Linked DNA regions of Homo sapiens. The protein of the gene in region 1 interacts with the protein of each later gene in a biochemical or structural test. Each region holds a gene or a part of one and is shown on either strand. Other genes may lie near its edges.

The links. The genes of interacting proteins can lie anywhere in the genome.
Region 2: the proteins of RASA1 (region 1) and DNAJA3 form a complex in vitro, tested with the Homo sapiens proteins (one study listed by BioGRID).
Region 3: the proteins of RASA1 (region 1) and HCK form a complex in vitro, tested with the Homo sapiens proteins (one study listed by BioGRID).

Annotation. Positions count from the first base shown.
Region 1 is NC_000005.10:87,372,383-87,375,882, forward strand, and holds part of RASA1 (ras GTPase-activating protein 1), read left to right. Parts: intron 1-1,780; coding exon 1,781-1,938; intron 1,939-2,457; coding exon 2,458-2,534; intron 2,535-3,500. UniProt on the Homo sapiens protein: Inhibitory regulator of the Ras-cyclic AMP pathway. Stimulates the GTPase of normal but not oncogenic Ras p21; this stimulation may be further increased in the presence of NCK1.
Region 2 is NC_000016.10:4,439,368-4,442,867, forward strand, and holds part of DNAJA3 (dnaJ homolog subfamily A member 3, mitochondrial), read left to right. Parts: intron 1-2,007; coding exon 2,008-2,208; intron 2,209-2,900; coding exon 2,901-3,053; intron 3,054-3,500. UniProt on the Homo sapiens protein: Modulates apoptotic signal transduction or effector structures within the mitochondrial matrix. Affect cytochrome C release from the mitochondria and caspase 3 activation, but not caspase 8 activation.
Region 3 is NC_000020.11:32,097,242-32,099,798, forward strand, and holds part of HCK (tyrosine-protein kinase HCK), read left to right. Parts: intron 1-1,762; coding exon 1,763-1,894; intron 1,895-2,557. UniProt on the Homo sapiens protein: Non-receptor tyrosine-protein kinase found in hematopoietic cells that transmits signals from cell surface receptors and plays an important role in the regulation of innate immune responses, including neutrophil, monocyte, macrophage and mast cell functions, phagocytosis, cell survival and proliferation, cell adhesion and migration.

The DNA.
Region 1 (3,500 bases):
GTTAAAAACATAAGAAAGATTATTCTTCCACTTTAAATAACAACACTAAACCAACACAGCAGAAACGGTTCTGTTGGGCACTTAATTTTCCTTCAAAAACTTATTTTGGCCTCTTTCAAAAAAGTAGAACATTGAAAAGATCATCAGATTTATAGCACTAATCCCAATAAACTTTTTTGGGATTTTCATTTTGAAGAACAGCTTTTAAAACCTACTGCTTAACTCTTAGGAAATATTTAATCTTATTTGAAACTGTAACATGCCCTATACTTTGAGATTTGTGGAGAGTTAAGCTAGGCTTTCTCTTTTTTTTGCCTTTACAAGGGTAACTTTATAACCTCCATTTCTTGGCTTTTTTCTTTTTAGTAATCCCTGTATAATTGGAAGAAGTTAGGCAAATTTTGACATTCTCAAGGTTTAAAGAAAGTTTAGTACAATATTTATTTACTAACCAAAGTGTCTCCTGTTCTCTTTGTGCGAATATCTGATAAGCTGAGTGATTAACATACTGTTCTACTGGGAGTGGATAATGGTTGATATTTAGGTGACTAAATAGTCCCTGTAACCCAAAGTCTGGCTCTTCCCCAGGGAAATTTAAGTATACACACAATCGCCATGTCTTCATAACATTGTAACATTTTGTAAGCTATCAAAAATCAGATTGGATTTTTGCTAATAAGAGCAAGTTGTATTTTGTGTGAAACTTGAGCCATTAAAATGACATTTGCAGGTTTAATATAATCATAGCTAACATCTCTCAAGCACTTTTTATGTATCAGTGGGCAGTGTGATTTAGTGATTTACATATACTGTCAGCCCTTTCTATTCATGGGTTCTGCATCAGTGGACTCTACCAACCATGGGTCGAAAAAATACAATAAAAAGATACAGTATAACAACTATGTACATAGCATTCACATTGTATTAGGTATTACAAGTAATCTAGAGATGATTTACGGCATACAGGGGGGCATGCATAGATTTTATGCAGATACTATGTCATTTTCTATACGGGACTTGAGCATCTTGGGCTTCGTTAGCTGCCAGGACAGAGAGGTGGAGGGTCTTGGAATCAGTCCCCCACAGATACTGAGGGATAACTAGTTTGTAATACTTATTACAACCTGTAGTGTAGACTTTATACTTACATATTAGAAAGATGAGGCTTAGAGGGACGGATTTGTGCAAGGCCACACAAGTAGTATATGGCAAGAGAGAAAGAGAACCTGATACTAGAAGGTGGATGGTCTAAGTTTTGGCATCCAAACTAACAAATAACTTAGTTTCTTTAGGTTTGTATCCTTTCCTGTAAAATAAGAAGGTAAAGTCAGTGTTTTAAAAATTTTTAGCTGTGGAACTCTTTTATAGAAATAGAATCTTCCAGATAAGTATTATATAACATACGGGATTTTAATTTGAGTAGTGACAGTTGTTTACTTATATTAATAAAGAATTTTCTTCTTAACTTCATTTTCTCTTTATCATTGTTTTATGGTAGAAAAGGTGTATTTCATTATTTCTCCAGGAATATACTGGGAGAAATAACTTGTAAAATAAAATTGCATTGTTTTTATCTTTTAGGTGGGAAGAATTATTTTAAATGTCTGAATGTTTTAAGTATGTCATATACAAATATATAACCAAAGCTCACATTTTCTGAAAAAAAAGGGGAAAATAAGTCATTATTTTTGGCTTTGTATCTTAGAGTAATTGCTTTTGAAATGTAGTGCAATTCTAGAAATCTGGGGTAATATATATATATATATTTTTTTTTTTTTAGGTCAGCAGCCTTGTTTTACATATTGAAGAAGCCCATAAACTCCCAGTAAAACATTTTACTAATCCATATTGTAACATCTACCTGAATAGTGTCCAAGTAGCAAAAACTCATGCAAGGGAAGGGCAAAACCCAGTATGGTCAGAAGAGTTTGTCTTTGAGTAAGTCTTATTTTATCATTACATTAATCATTTTCTTTTACCATATTGCATTTCTTTCTGTTTTTTTGGTCTCTGTATCTAAACCATCAGAACAAGGTACCATATCCAGGTGTTCTAATAGCATATATATATATATATATTTTTTTTTTTTTTTTCTGTTGTTTGTTCACCTTTATTTGTGAAGTGCTATGCCCTTGGTTTTTCCACTTAGTTATTAACATGAATTAGCAAGTCAAAAAACATTTACTAACCCACAAATACAAAACATTTACTAGGGTTTCCAGTACTTATTTGAATGAATTATTAGTTTAGGAGGTTAAAGATGGTAGGAAAAGTGTGTAATCTGCGTGTCTTCTGTATACCAAATAATAAAATATGTTGTGAATCTGGTTTTAGGTCTAGCACACTGTTTTTTTTTTTAAAGCAGAAATAGGGGGTTTATTTGATACTAGAACTAAAGAAATAAGGTAGTTTGATGCCAAAACATTTTGTTAATTCTTTTTCTCCTTGCTCCTTTAGTGATCTTCCTCCTGACATCAATAGATTTGAAATAACTCTTAGTAATAAAACAAAGAAAAGCAAAGATCCTGATATCTGTAAGTTGATACAGAAACTTTCTAAAATAGAAAAAGCATGTTTTATATACTTTCAAAATTCACAATGAAAGTCTTAAAATAGAAATTAAAAAAACAGAAATGCAAGTAGTATAATTTGAGATAGTTTCTTTCTGTACTTCTTAAAGTATTGATTATCAAGAAAGAATATACCTAAGATAGAAAAAGACCAATATGGTTCAACTGTACACACTGTTAAGCAATTAAGATTAAAATATTTAGCCACCCTCCTTTCTCCAATGAATAGGAAGAATAAGGAAATGATTACAGTGGTCTTTTTGTAGGGCTTGCCCTCATCCCTTCTTTCTACTTTTTAGGTTTTTCCTGCTTTTTTTTTTCTTTTGAGATGGAGTCTTGCTCTTGTTGCTCAGGCTGCAGTGCAGTGGTGTGATCTCGGCTCACTGCAACCTCCGCCTCCCAGGTTCAAGCAATTCTCCTGCCTCAGCCTCCTGAGTATCTGGGACTACAGGCGCCCGCCACCATACCTGGCTAAGTTTTGTATTTTTAGTAGAGACGGGGTTTCAGCATGTTGGCCAGGCTGGTTTCAAACTCCTGACCTCAGGTGATCTGCCGGCCTCGGCCTCCCAAAATGCTGGGATTACATTACCATATAAGTAAAAAAGTATTCTATTTAAAAATTTCCCTTAAACTTGAATGTCATTTATTCTATTTAAAAATTTCCCTTAAACTTGAATATGTCACTTATTCACTTCTGGTAGTCAAAGGCTCCCAGTTCCTGTCCTCAGCAGCACAGCTCCTTCCATCCTGCTGCTAAAACAGTTGACAGTGAGATTTACCAGTTCACATCAGGGTGAATTAGGTTAATACCTTCTTAAAACTCAGGCTTAGGGAAGGAAGTGATATGTATTAACAGATCAAAGCCTGAATATTTCTCTATAAAATGTTTATTCTGTAGTTTTTTGTAGTAATTTTAGTTTTCCATTACTT
Region 2 (3,500 bases), on another chromosome or scaffold:
AAAAGAGTTGAGGTCTCACTCTGTTACCTAGGCTGGAGTGTAGTGGCGAGATCACAGCTCACTGCAGTCTCAAACTCTTGGGCTCAAGCAGTTTTCCTGCCTCAACCTCAACTTCCTGAGTAGCTGGGACTACAGGTTCCCCACTGCACCCAGAAGATTCAATTTTTAATGGGGCGGGGGGGTGTTATTCTTGTGAATGTGTTTTTCCACATGGTTAGTTGATCTGATGTTTCTGCCAGGGGCATGAGTTTTGGAGAGTCCTAATCCACCGTGTTGCTGACTTCTGTCTTCAAGGGGGATGTTATTAAACGGACCGAGCCTCAGAACCTAAGAGCAGCAATTCCTTGGGAAGGGCTGGAACCAGGAGATAAAACCCACCAGGAAGTCATGAACTCCCACCTGACTCCTCCTCTGCCAGCCTTCCTCCTTTGCATCTTAACTGGGTGCCCTAAAAGTTACCCTAGGCACCAAGCTGTCCTCCACCTGCTTTCTTAGTCCCCCTCCATTCTAGGTGGAAGTGTCTTTTCCTTTGGAGGAAGCGTACTCTTTTCTGTTTGGCCTTAAGGATAGTGCCTATTTTTTTGAGATAGTGTCTCACTTTGTTGCCCAGGCTGGAGTGCAATGGTGCAATCACGGTTCACTGCAGCCTCAACCTCAACCTCCGTGCTCAAGCAATCCTCCCACCTCAGCCTCCCAAGTAGCTGGAACTATAGGCGTGCACCACCATTCTTGGTTAATTTTTTTGTATTTTTCTTGTGATGGGGTTTCACCATGTTGCCCAGGCTGGTCTTGAACTCATGAACTCAAGCAGTCCACCTGCCTTGGCCTCCCAAAGTCCTGGGATTACAGGTGTGAGCCACCATACTCAGCCTAGGGCAGTGTCTTTTTAATTAAAGAAAAAAAAAGTAAGACAAACACATAAAAAAAAGATACAAAGTGAGGGCCAGGCACGGTGGCTCACGCTTGTAATCCCAGCACTTTGGGAGGCTGAGGCAGACGGATCACGAGGTCAAGAGATCGAGACCATCCTGGCAAACGTGGTGAAACCCTGTCTCTACTAAAAATACAAAAAAATTAGCTGGGCGTGGTGGTGCATGTCTTTAGTCCCAACTACTCGGGAGGCTGAGGCAGGAGAATCACTTGAACCCGAGAGGCAGAGGTTGCAGTGAGCCGAGATCGCGCCACTGCACTCCAGCCTGGCGACAGAGCAAGACTCCCGTCTCAAAAAAAAAAAAAAAGATACAAAGTGAATACTACATTTTTCCTTGTCCCTCCCTAATCCCCCTTTTTGAGGTAGTTAGTCCTTATTAACAGTTTTGTGGGCCAGGCCCAGTGGCTCATGCCTGTAATCCCAGTATTTTGGGAGGTCGAAGTGGGAGGATCGCTTGAGGCCAGGAGTTTGAAAGCAGCCTGGGCAACATAGCAAGACCCTGTCTCTACAAAAACTTAAAACAATTTGCCAGGACTGGTGGTGTGCACCTGTAGACCCAGCTACTGTGGAGGCTGAGGCAGGAGGATTGCTTCAACCTGGGAGGTTGAGGCTGCAGTGAGCTAGGATTGCACCACTGCTATTGTCGTTGCTGTTACTTCTGTTACTCCGGTTGTTCTGGCTTGCAGAAAACCTTTCGATGAAGGTAAGGGTAGGAAGCATAAATTCTCTACGAGGTAATGTCCCCTGAGGAGAGAGGTGAAGTGTGAATCTGTGAAGAATCCAGGGTGCCTGTGAGGTCAAGCGAGGATCAACACAAACATTTTCCCAGCATGCGCGACGGCGGGAGAGTTCGTGAGACTTTTGGAAGCACTTCACGCCCTACACTTAGCATTCAGTTTGGTCATCTCATCCCTCTTCTAGGTGCTAGTCACAGGCCCACCCCAACCTCATAGGATGTGTTTGCACACAGGGCCACTTAATAAATGTTATGGCTGCCTTATTTGCTGTGAACTCTTGTCTGTATTCCTGGGCCTTGGTAGACCTGGGATGCCCAGTGGCTCTGCCTTTCACTGTAGGTTTTGAGTGATGAGGTGAAGAGGAAGCAGTACGATGCCTACGGCTCTGCAGGCTTCGATCCTGGGGCCAGCGGCTCCCAGCATAGCTACTGGAAGGGAGGCCCCACTGTGGACCCCGAGGAGCTGTTCAGGAAGATCTTTGGCGAGTTCTCATCCTCTTCATTTGGAGATTTCCAGACCGTGTTTGATCAGCCTCAGGAAGTAAGTTCCTCACTTGGAAGAATTATTCAAATTTTAGACTAAGTATGGGTCAAACAAATTTTTTTATCAGTTTCTGTTTCTCAGAAAGGCAAGGCAGCTTAAATGGAGTGATCTGGAGGCAGCCATTTTAGTAGAAAATAATTTCAGTATTTGAAAAATCGCATAGGTAGTAATGAGTATGTCCATTCTGATGGTATTCTTAACAGTTGCATAATGAGGTAGCACCTAAGGCTTTCAGAGCCCATGAGGGTGTGAGTGTTGTCTCTCATCTGCTACAGTATTCCAGGAGAGTTCTGTCCGGTGGGAAGGCACTGCTGATCCTCTCTCATTTATGTCCTTATAAGACACTGTCAGAGTGGAAGAGAGAGGGGATATATTTATGATCTAAATTATGATTGTGGATCATTCAGGCTGTTTTTAAGTGCCATGTACGAGTATTTATCTGTGAACATTTTCAGTCTGTTGAAAGTACGTTTTCATTTAAGTCATACATTATCTCTTAAAAATCCCAAAGAGTAGGGCAGAATTCGTTCAGTGAGTCCTACCTATGCTTACTTGGCAGAGTGCAAGTAAGTACAGTGGTGAAAGAGTGACTGAAAATGTGGGCCAGTACCCTCCTTTCCCTTTAGAGCCGAGCGTCAGTTTTGGTCGTTGCAAACAAAAGTTGACAGGCTGTCCCTTGGTTTCTTTAGTACTTCATGGAGTTGACATTCAATCAAGCTGCAAAGGGGGTCAACAAGGAGTTCACCGTGAACATCATGGACACGTGTGAGCGCTGCAACGGCAAGGGGAACGAGCCCGGCACCAAGGTGCAGCATTGCCACTACTGTGGCGGCTCCGGCATGGTAAGGCTCTGCCCGAGACTCCACCTCCCACGGCTTGCACCACTGACTGAGAAGAGCTGGTTGTGGCACTGCTCCCAGAGAACGTATGCTGGGAATTGGGGGAGTTGGTGAACTCAGCCTGGCTGTCTTTCCCCCGTGACCCTGAGGAGACGAGCCTGTGCTCCTCTTTCCCTGATACCACAGGCTCAGCAACCAGAGCACAGCAGCTCCGGGGGCGGGGCGGGGGATTGCATCCAGTTGTCACTTTCTTCTTTATTTTTCTAACAATTGCTTTGGTAATTCAAGGGGAAATAATCTTTTTTAAATGTACTGTTCAGCTCCCAGGAGTCTTCAGGTACTTCTGTAGACAGGCGGTATCATATTTTTCAGTGTCGTGTGGTCAAGTTGATGATCTGGAGTGCAGAAGTTTGTGTGTTCTAGAAAATCAGATGAACAGATTGAGGCCCT
Region 3 (2,557 bases), on another chromosome or scaffold:
TGCACTCCAGCCTGTGTAACAGAGCAAGACTTTGTCTCAAAAAAGTAAATAAATAGGGCCGGGCACGTTGGCTCATGCCTGTAATTCCAGCACTTTGGGAGGCTGAGGTGGGAGGATCACGAGGTCAGGAGATCGAGACCATCCTGGCTAACACGGTGAAACCCCATCTCTACTAAAAATACAAAAAATTAGCCAGGCGTGGTGGCGGGCACCTGTAGTCCCAGCTACTTGGGAGACTGAGGCAGGAGAATGGCGTGAAAGCCGGGAGGCGGAACTTGCAGTGAGCTGAGATGACACCACTGCACTCCAGCCTGGGCAAACAGAGCGAGACCCTGTCTCAAAACATAAATAAATAAATAAATAAATAAATGTAATGACTAAAGGAATAAAAGTAGAATGTATAATTTCTAAACCAGAAGAAGATAAGCAGGAAATCAAGAAAAGTCTGTAGATCCAAAGGAGGAAGGGAGAAAACATATACACACACACACACTCTCACACACACAAACACACACATAGAACATTTTCAAAACTTGACCATGTACTCAGTCATAAAGCAGGTCTCAACAAATTCCAAAGAACATATATTCTATAGACCATGTTCACCAACCATGATATAATTAAACTAAACACTTTTTAAAAAAGGATAACTATGCCAGGTGCGGTGGCTCACACCTATAATCCCAGTGCTTTAGGAGGCCAAGATGGGAGGATCACTTGAGCCCAGGAGTTTTGAGAACAGGCTGGGTAACATAATAAAACACTGTCTCTACAAATTTTTCTATTTTTTTATATTTTATTTTATTTTATTTTATTTTATTTTTGAGACGGAGTCTGACTCTATCATCCAGGCTGGAGTGCAGTGGTGTGATCTCGGTTCACTGCAACCTCCATCCCCTGGGTTCAAGTGATTCTCCTGTCTCAGCCTGTAGCTGGAACTACAGGCACCTGCCACCATGCCCAGCTAATTTTGTATTTTTAGTAGAGATGGAGTTGGCCAGGCTGGTCTCGAATTCCTGACCTCAGGTGATCCTCCTCCTTGGTCTCCCAAAGTGCTGGGATTACAGGCACAAGCCACCATACCTGGCCAAAAAAATTTTTTTAATTAGCTTGGCATAATGGGGCACACCTGTAACCCCAGGGGCTTGAGAGGCTGAGGCAGGAGGATAGCTTGAGGTCAGGAGTTCGAGGCTTCAGTGAACTATGATTGTGCCACTGCGCTCCAGCCTGGGCACTCTGTCTCTAAAAGAAAAAAAAAATGAAAAGGCTAACTAAACCCATGTCAGACTAGGTGGGAGGAAGGGCGGGTAAAGGGAGAGACACATAGTGACTGGTGGGAACCTCATGGGCTGAGAGCCAGAATCCTCCCTTTTCCCATCGCCCAGGATGAGAGGACTGAGGCATCAGCTGCAACCTGGACTCAAGGCCCCCTGAAGTCCTTCTGTCCCCAAAGACCTGTGACCTCTGGGATTCCACTCTTCGGAGTTGCAGTTAACTGGGGTATCAGCTGAATCAACGAGGAGGATTCTAGAGTGAACTTCCACACCATACCCCAGGCCCCTAAGCCCACTCCTCCTTGTTTAGCCATCTGTCCTCAGGATGGATGTCCCTTGCTTCCACAGGGAGGCCACGTATCAGGGAAATTGCAGGTCTGCAGGGGCAGATGTTGGCAGCTCTTGCCCTTGCCTGTTCCCCCACCTTAGCAGAGCCAACCCTCACTACTCCCCAGCCTTCCCCGACTCTGCTCTGTTCAACCCTGCAGGGGCCAAGTTCCCCATCAAGTGGACAGCTCCTGAAGCCATCAACTTTGGCTCCTTCACCATCAAGTCAGACGTCTGGTCCTTTGGTATCCTGCTGATGGAGATCGTCACCTACGGCCGGATCCCTTACCCAGGTAGGGAAGGGGCATCAGCTCAGGGCTGCTACCAGGGCCCAGTCTGGCAATGGGCTCATCTCAACAACATGTCCATTCAAACTGAGTTCTTGATCCTCACCCCCAACCTTCCCTCACCTTTCCTGTCTTAGTTAAAGGCACCTCCATCCATCTAATGTCTTAAGCCTGAAATCTGGGGGCTTCCTTGGCCCTTCCTTCTCTCTCACTCCTATGACTTTTTTTTTTTTTTTTTTTTTTTTTGAGACGGAGTCTCCCTCTGTCACCCAGGCTGGAGTGCAGTGACGTGATCTCGGCTCACTGCAACCTCCGCCTCCCAGGTTCAAGCGATTCTCCTGCCTCAGCCTCCTGAGTAACTGGGATTACAAGCATCCACCACCATGCCTGGCTAATTTTTGTATTTTTAGTAGAGACGGGGTTTCACCATGTTGGCCAGGCTGGTCTCGAACTGCTGACCTTAGGTGATGCGCCTGCCTCGGCCTCCCAAAGTGCTGGGATTACAGGCGTGAGCCACTGTGCCTGGCCTCACCCCTATGACATCTGAGCAGTCACAGGGTTTTGGCCACTCGACTCCAAAACATATCCCAAGTCTCACCACTTTGAACCCCACAGTCTCCACTGCATCCAGGCCAGCGTCATCTCCCATAGATGGTGCAGCGGCATCCT